2 linked regions of the Homo sapiens genome follow. The protein of the gene in region 1 purifies or fractionates together with the protein of each later gene. This does not show direct contact. Each region holds a gene or a part of one and is shown in the gene's direction. Other genes may lie near its edges.

Region 1 (3,873 bases):
GCTTCAGCTCACCCTTCACCCCCATGTTCTCCTCAGGTCATTGGCAGCTCCCTCCTCTTCATCCACGACAAGAAGGAACAGGCCAAAGTGTGGATGATCGACTTTGGGAAAACCACGCCCCTGCCTGAGGGCCAGACCCTGCAGCATGACGTCCCCTGGCAGGAGGGGAACCGGGAGGATGGCTACCTCTCGGGGCTCAATAACCTCGTCGACATCCTGACCGAGATGTCCCAGGATGCCCCACTCGCCTGAGCTGCCCACGCCCTCCCTGGCCCCCGCCTGGGCCTCCTTTCCTCCTCCTGTGCTTCCTTTCTCGTTCCTAACTTTTCCTTCACTTACACCTGACTGACCCTCCTGAACTGCACTACAAGACACTTTGTAGAAGAGGAGATGAGAGTTTCTAGTCATTTTCCTAACTTCAGGGCTTGGAGGTGGTGTTTGCACTGCTTTTTGTAGAGAGGGTCACCTACTAGAAGAGAAATGCCCAGTCTTAGAGGTGGGTCAGGTGTAGAGCTGGAGGGGGTCCCTGGCTGCTGAGGGGACCCTACCAGATGAGCCCTGCCTCTGGGAGCCCCCTAGGAAGCACCAGCCTGGACCTACCACCTGCGGAGGCCTGCTGCCCCCTGGCGGCCAGTGCTGTTAGAGTGCTGCCAAGCACAGCCTTATTTCTGCCGGGGCCTCCCCACCGGAGAGCCCAGGGGGCCGGCCGGGTTCCTGGTCCCTGGCTGGGAGCAGGGCTTTCTGGTAGTTGGGGCACAAAACCATCGGGGAACCACATGTTGACTGTGAGCAAAGTGTCTTCCGATTAGCAGCCTCAGGGATGCCCTGGTGGCCTCTCCAGGGCTGCTCAGGCAAGGCCCCCCACCCATCTGGTATGGAAACCTGCCGGCTCCAGGCCAGACCCAGGAGCCAAGAGAAGGCTGAAGCCAGCTTGGCTGTGTTCTCTGATCTAGGCCTTCCCAGAGGAGGCGAGCAGAAGCTGTGCCACTTGGAATTGCAACCCATGAGTTCAGAAGGCACACTCTGCCATGCTGAGCTCCAAGGGTGCTACCAGGGGAAGATGGGATCTATAGAGTCTCTGGGCCCTGGCCCCAGGGAGGAGCACATTTTTCTTGACCCTCACCTACCTGGTGCTAGTTGGTCAACCCTGCCTGCATACATGGGCTCCTGTCATGGGGCCCAGAGTCCCTTGCAGATATAGAAATAGGGGAGGAGCTCAGGTCTGCGCCAGGCAGGAAGAAGGCAGGCTTCTGGCTTCCAGAGGTGCCGCGGTGGCCTCCTGGCATCATTTGTTATTGCCTCTGAAACAAGCCTTACTGCCTGGAGGGCTTAGATTCCTGCTTCTCCAATGTAGTGTGGGTATCTTGTAGGGTATGTGGTGGATGCCAGGGCGTGCTCCAGGCACCTCTTCCTGAAGTCTCTGCATTTGGAGATTCGTGGAGAACCTATTTAAGCCCAATTTTAACTGAAAGCCAGTGAGTCTGATATGGAAGGGAATGTAAAATTTGCCTGACTTCTTAAGAACAAAACCCCCAGCTCTGTGCCCCATGCTCCTTGGGGCTTGCCACCCACTCCTTTGCTGTCAGAGGTACAGGAGCTGGGAGAGTCCAGGAGCTAGGGACACAGAGGGAGACTATGGACCAAGGTGTGTGTGTCTGGAGGAACCACTGCCCACCCCACCACCCCGGGGTCTCTGGGGAACTGTCAACCTGCCCACGGGACATGTACATTTCCCCTTTTGTGCTGGAAGTGTGAGTGACACTTGCTGGGGGTGGAGGGTGGGACACATGAGGATGTATAAGTACAGATTTTAAAAAAGGAAATCAACTTACACTTCCTGGCTCTTGTTTAAAACAGTGGTGAGCTCCTGTGTGGGCCGACTTGCTAAAGGTCACACACGCGCCCGGTGGAGCACGAGAGACCTCGTGGCAGCATGTGATCTGGAAGGCAGGCAGGACGGGGGCGTTGGGGAGCCAAAGTCAACTCTGGGCCTCTGGAGCTATAGTGACTTTTGGGCTAGAAGGGACCCTGGTGGTCTGTGCTTCAGCCATTTGCAGGGCAGGGGCATCATTAATTCAGACGTAAAGATTCTATGAATATGGACTGGCCAAAAGTTATCCTTACTCCATCTGTGAAAGAAGTTTGCTAAAGCAAATCATGATATGAACAAAAATTACAGGGGACCTGTTTAAGAGAACAAAATGTTCCAAGCACTTTAGGCAGACACCAGCTGTTTGCAAACAATGTGCTAATATGCAAATGATGTGCTTATTAAAGGAGGCCCATGGGGCCTCTTATTGGCAATACTTGGCTGTGGGTTACATTAAATATGTGAACATAGTATGAAGTAGCATCATTTTAGGGTTATTCTGTTACTTAGGGTTTTTGTTTTCTGTTTTTTTTTTCTCTTTTTTTGTATTTACCGTGCTAGTTCTCTTCTACACCTACTCTGTCTCTCAAGCCATTTTGCCACTCGCTTCCCTGCCATCTGGCCCTTCCCTTTGTCTCAGTGGGATAGATGGATTGTGAAATGGAATCTCCCAGAACCCCTGCCCTGGCAGCCTGGAAGACCGTGCCTGCCCAGCCCTCGTCACCACAGGGACTCCTTGGGTCCTGGCAGTGCATGTGCCAGCAGGCAGGACAAACTCTGTGTACCTGTGCCCAGGTGAATGGGCGCAGGGTCCTCTTGCCCTGTCCTGCGGGGGGCCCCACGAGTTCCTGGCATTCAGCACTGCTTAGCATTCTCGGAAGGTTTCTTCAACTGCTTGCTTTTCCCAGGCTTGCCTTTAGTGTCATGTAAGACATTTTTAAGTTATATTTATTTTGTTGGGTTTTAAAATTGCACAGAACACTAAGACCGAAAGGCTGGACTCTTGTTTCTCCTTGAAAGCTTTGCCTTTGTTTTGAACTTCCTTTCCCACTTGGTAGAAAGAGCCCAGAAGCAGCCCTGGCCCTGTAAGATGGACTCTTTCATCCTTCAGTTGTATTTAGCTTTGAGTTTCTCTGCATCTGTCCACCCCATGTGTATATAACCCAGCCCCTGGCTCTGGGGTGGTCACCTCGTCAGTGCCTTTTGTTCTGGAGGAGAGGACCCCCCCCGCCTGCCGAGAGGCTCTCTTCCTGTTCTGCACCCCTCTCCCCATGGGACCTTGGAGAAAACTGAACTGTTACAAACCCCTGCACAGTGCCTGTCAAACAGATGCAAACCTTCCTGAATAAAGCCTTGGAGACCAGCGCTGTCTGTGGTGTGATCCTTCTGGCCCCCAGCCCTGAGACCTGGCTGAGGGGCAGGCTGGGGAGTCTTAGGAAGCTAGAGGGCCCACATGGGGGCTGTTAGGGGAGTGGGTGTCAGACTGGGTAACATTTTAATTTGTAAAGAATATAAACCACTCTCCAAAATGAGTCTTTTCAACCCTCATGAAACTTTGAAATAGTAGCTCAGAGACTAGAACATCAACCAAGAAGCACTGTCCCCAAGTAGGGGGGTCTCCGGTGCAGCGATCGCTTCTGGGGCCTTACTCTAAGCTAGACTGGGGCTGAACACGCCCATCGGAGTTCCCGTTTTACCCAGATCAATTCCCTGAACAAAGATTTATAGTCTGTTTTACAGATGAGGAAACTGAGGTTTAAATGAAGCAACTTGACCTAAGTGGGGAGCAGGGATTTGAATCTAGAATGTGCCTTGATTGAAAACCAATTTTGTCGTCCTCCTAACTGGCAGTGGGGGGGTGTGGGGAGCAGTGTCTGGAGGGCAGAAAGCTTGTCTTATTTTTGTCCCAGATCCCAGGCTCTAAGCCTCTGACTTGGCACACGGTAGCAGCCCAGGGAGGGTCTGGAGAACTAGTTCATGGCTACTTGGCTGGGGCATCCAGG
Region 2 (3,500 bases), on another chromosome or scaffold:
GAAATATTGCAATACTAGATAGACTGGGTCTGTAAGATGTTATTTCTAAGCTTGTTGCTTAAAAGTAAATTCTGCTTACCTCATAGTAACTTTCAATGTTGTGTTTTTCAGATCTCATATATAGAACCTGTGACAATGCTTTCATTTTGGCGCTTTTCACTTCTATTGGCTAGTTATTTTTATTAATCCCTGCTTCGTTGTGGTGGTAACATAAAAGCCCATTTCCTGCTTTTCCTTCTAACAAGATGCCTTTTCATTCAGTTAGTCTCAAGTCAAGTTGTATCTTTGTGAAGCCTTTTTATAAATACCTCTCTGCAGGCAAATTTAGATGTCTCTCACTGTATGGTGATTGAGAACATAGATTTATAAATCAGTAAATGGTTACCTTTTATTTATGAATCCATCAAGAGCATGAGATCGTGTTACAAATCTTCTCTCTTTTCCCTTATCCTAGCTCAATTCTTTGTATGTAGTAGATACTCAGTAAATATTTGGTCAGTGAATAACTATTATAAGATTATAGGACCAAGAGAAAATTAGTTCCAATTTCATTCTAAATCTTGAACTTTTAAATTTGCTTTTAATTTTCCAAACTTAGAGCCTGTAAGCAGAAAATAAGCTCCAACTTAAAGATGAGTAAAACACGTAAGATATATCTACACACCAAGTAGATAGAAGCCTGTGATTGCTTTAGAAGTAGGAAATGAGCCCTTTCAGAGTTGTGAGGACTAAAATTTCCATCTTAAGCAAAAACAGTCTTTCAATCTTGGTGTATTGCTAATCATGACAGTTGATTACAAAGTTCAAGACCTGGCAGAAAAAGTATAAATATTATTTCTCTGTCTTTATAGGTGATCTCATCCACATCACAGCTTCTGTTGTCAACTGCGTATGAATGAGTCACTGATCTCCAACCCAGACTTCTCTGAGCTGTACACTCTTATTATTGATACTTTCTTTTAGATGACTGAGTGGCACTTCGTATTCAACATATTCAAAACTGAACTCATGATTTCCCTCCACCAAACAAACTAGTTCATTTCCAGTGTTCCCTTTTCATCTTTCCATCTTCTTAGCTAACTAGCTCTGAAAGCTAAGAAGCTATGACTCATCTTTGACACTTCCAAAACTCCCAGTCCCCGTGTCAAATCTCCAGTCGGTAATTATTGGTTTCACTTCCTGACTGACTCTGAAATCCATGTACATCTCTGCATACATACTGCCACCCAACTTAGTGCTACCTTCATTTCTTGCTTTTTGTACTGTACTACCTTTACTATATTCACATCTGTTCTTTACTTTCCCAAGTCAGTTTTCTACAGTATAGTCAAGGTGATCTCCTCAATATGCAAGTCTGAGGATGACAATATCCAAAAGAAGATGACATCCTCTTTTTTGAAAACAGCAGTGTCTTCCCATTGCTTTTATGAAAAAGTCCAAGCTCTCTATATGGTTTTTTGATAGCTTGGCCTCTACTTAACTCTTCATTTCCATTTGTTACTTGATTCTGTGCTATCTGTGATCTGGACATGATGGTTGGCTTTTTCCTATTGGCAGATTTTTACAGGTACCTTCCTTGCTCTTTCAAACAAATTTCCATCTATTAGTCTAACTTTGACTATTTAACTCCTGTTCATCCTTCAAGTAACAGCTCAGTTATCACTCACTTAGGGACCCCATTAAATCCCCTTAGAAAACATTCTTTCTGGGATATCTTAGTTGTGATTTTAACTTTTCCTATATATTGATTTTATTTGATATCCATGTATTCTTTTCACTCAGCTAGAAGTTTCACTGAGAGCACTGTTTGCTTCTCTTTTACCAACTGTTGTATATTGAGCACTTAGCACGTAGCAGGCACACTGTTAAGTATTGAATGAATGTCTGGATCTACTTGCGTGATGTGAGCATGTGTTAGGATTTCCATTAAATAACTTGGTTAAGTGTATTTTCCTTTACTCTGTTTCATAGAAGTTATGGTTAGGATTTCTATCATAAAAATTGACTAAGCATTTACTGAATATATATTTGTCTTTACTGTGTTTCATAGAAATTATATTTTTACTGGAGTTGATGTCAAGATAATTTGGATTCAGTTTAATTCAGCATATATCTTTTCTTAATTTCTTTCCCCTTTAACATTTTGCAGTGGTTCAACTCATAATGACAAGAGACAGTGATGGTTATGAAAACTCAACAGATGGTGAAATGTGTGACAAAGATGCTCTGGAGGAAGATTCAGAAAGCGTTAGTGAAATAGGAAGTGATGAGGAATCTGAAAATGAAATTACAAGTGTTGGTAGAGCTTCAGGTGATGACGATGGAAGTGAAGATGATGAAGAGGAGGATGAAGATGAAGAGGAGGATGAAGATGAGGATAGTGAGGATGATGATAAAAGTGACAGTGGCCCTGATCTTGCAAGGGGTAAAGGAAATATAGAAACTAGTTCTGAAGATGAAGATGATACGGCAGATTTGTTTCCAGAAGAATCTGGTTTTGAGCATGCTTGGAGAGAATTAGATAAAGATGCTCCTCGTGCTGATGAGGTAACCTTTTGAATAAACAAGATTATTTGTGAAAAACACAGTACAAGCAGCTTTTATGGCTGGTAGAACTGATGTCATTAAGTGGGAAAAGCTTATTGGTAATAGTATTCTTTATGATTCTGATTAAAATTTGATATGGAATATAATTATATGAACTAGAAGACGTCCAAGCAGATAAGAAGAGGCTCTACATAAATAATTAAAAGTTGCATGAAATTTTTAATACTTGTTTTAGCTAGTAGTTTGTATTTCTGTTTGTACGGCACCCAAAAGAAATGTTGCAGGGTAACATACTCAACTTCCTTACTCATGCATGCATGGCAAAATAGCTGAACAAACTTGGTGGTTAAAAAATCAGCTCATGATCATGTTCTGATTTAAGAATTAAGAACCAAGTAAGAGAAAGTACTTACCTGTTATGGTTTTACTATTGTTTGGCTCATTTGAAGTTCTCTTTTATATACTGAATTACGCTTAGATAACTCCTGTACTATTAATTTCAGAGCATAGGGGACAGAAGGCATTACATTTTTAGAATCTTTATTTTTCAAGTATTGAGAATGATATGGATTATGTACTATTTAATTCTTCTCATTTCTCAGATTACACGTCGATTAGCAGTTTGTAACATGGACTGGGATAGATTAAAGGCAAAAGATTTGCTGGCTCTGTTCAATTCATTTAAACCCAAAGGAGGTGTAATATTTTCCGTCAAGGTGAGAATTGATTTCATTTTGAAATAAATATTTCTAGGCATTTTAAGTTAAATCTGATTTTTTTTTTTTTTTTTGGCCATAGTTTTCCTTTTTAGGAAAATACTGTGGAAGTTGTCCAATCCAATTGAGTGTGAAACTTATGTAACAGGTATAAATGTTAGAAAGGAAGAGGTGAAATTATTATTATTGATAGGTTATATGATTGTTTACACATTAAAAATCCAAAGAAATAAAAGC

What was found. The genes of interacting proteins can lie anywhere in the genome.
Region 2: the proteins of ITPKB (region 1) and ESF1 purify together in Homo sapiens (affinity purification with mass spectrometry; one large-scale study listed by BioGRID and IntAct). This does not show direct contact.

Annotation. Positions count from the first base shown.
Region 1 is NC_000001.11:226,631,050-226,634,922, reverse strand, and holds the end of ITPKB (inositol-trisphosphate 3-kinase B), read left to right. Parts: intron 1-36; coding exon 37-252; 3' UTR 253-3,233; downstream 3,234-3,873. UniProt on the Homo sapiens protein: Catalyzes the phosphorylation of 1D-myo-inositol 1,4,5-trisphosphate (InsP3) into 1D-myo-inositol 1,3,4,5-tetrakisphosphate and participates to the regulation of calcium homeostasis.
Region 2 is NC_000020.11:13,774,920-13,778,419, reverse strand, and holds part of ESF1 (ESF1 homolog), read left to right. Parts: intron 1-2,149; coding exon 2,150-2,547; intron 2,548-3,149; coding exon 3,150-3,263; intron 3,264-3,500. UniProt on the Homo sapiens protein: May constitute a novel regulatory system for basal transcription. Negatively regulates ABT1.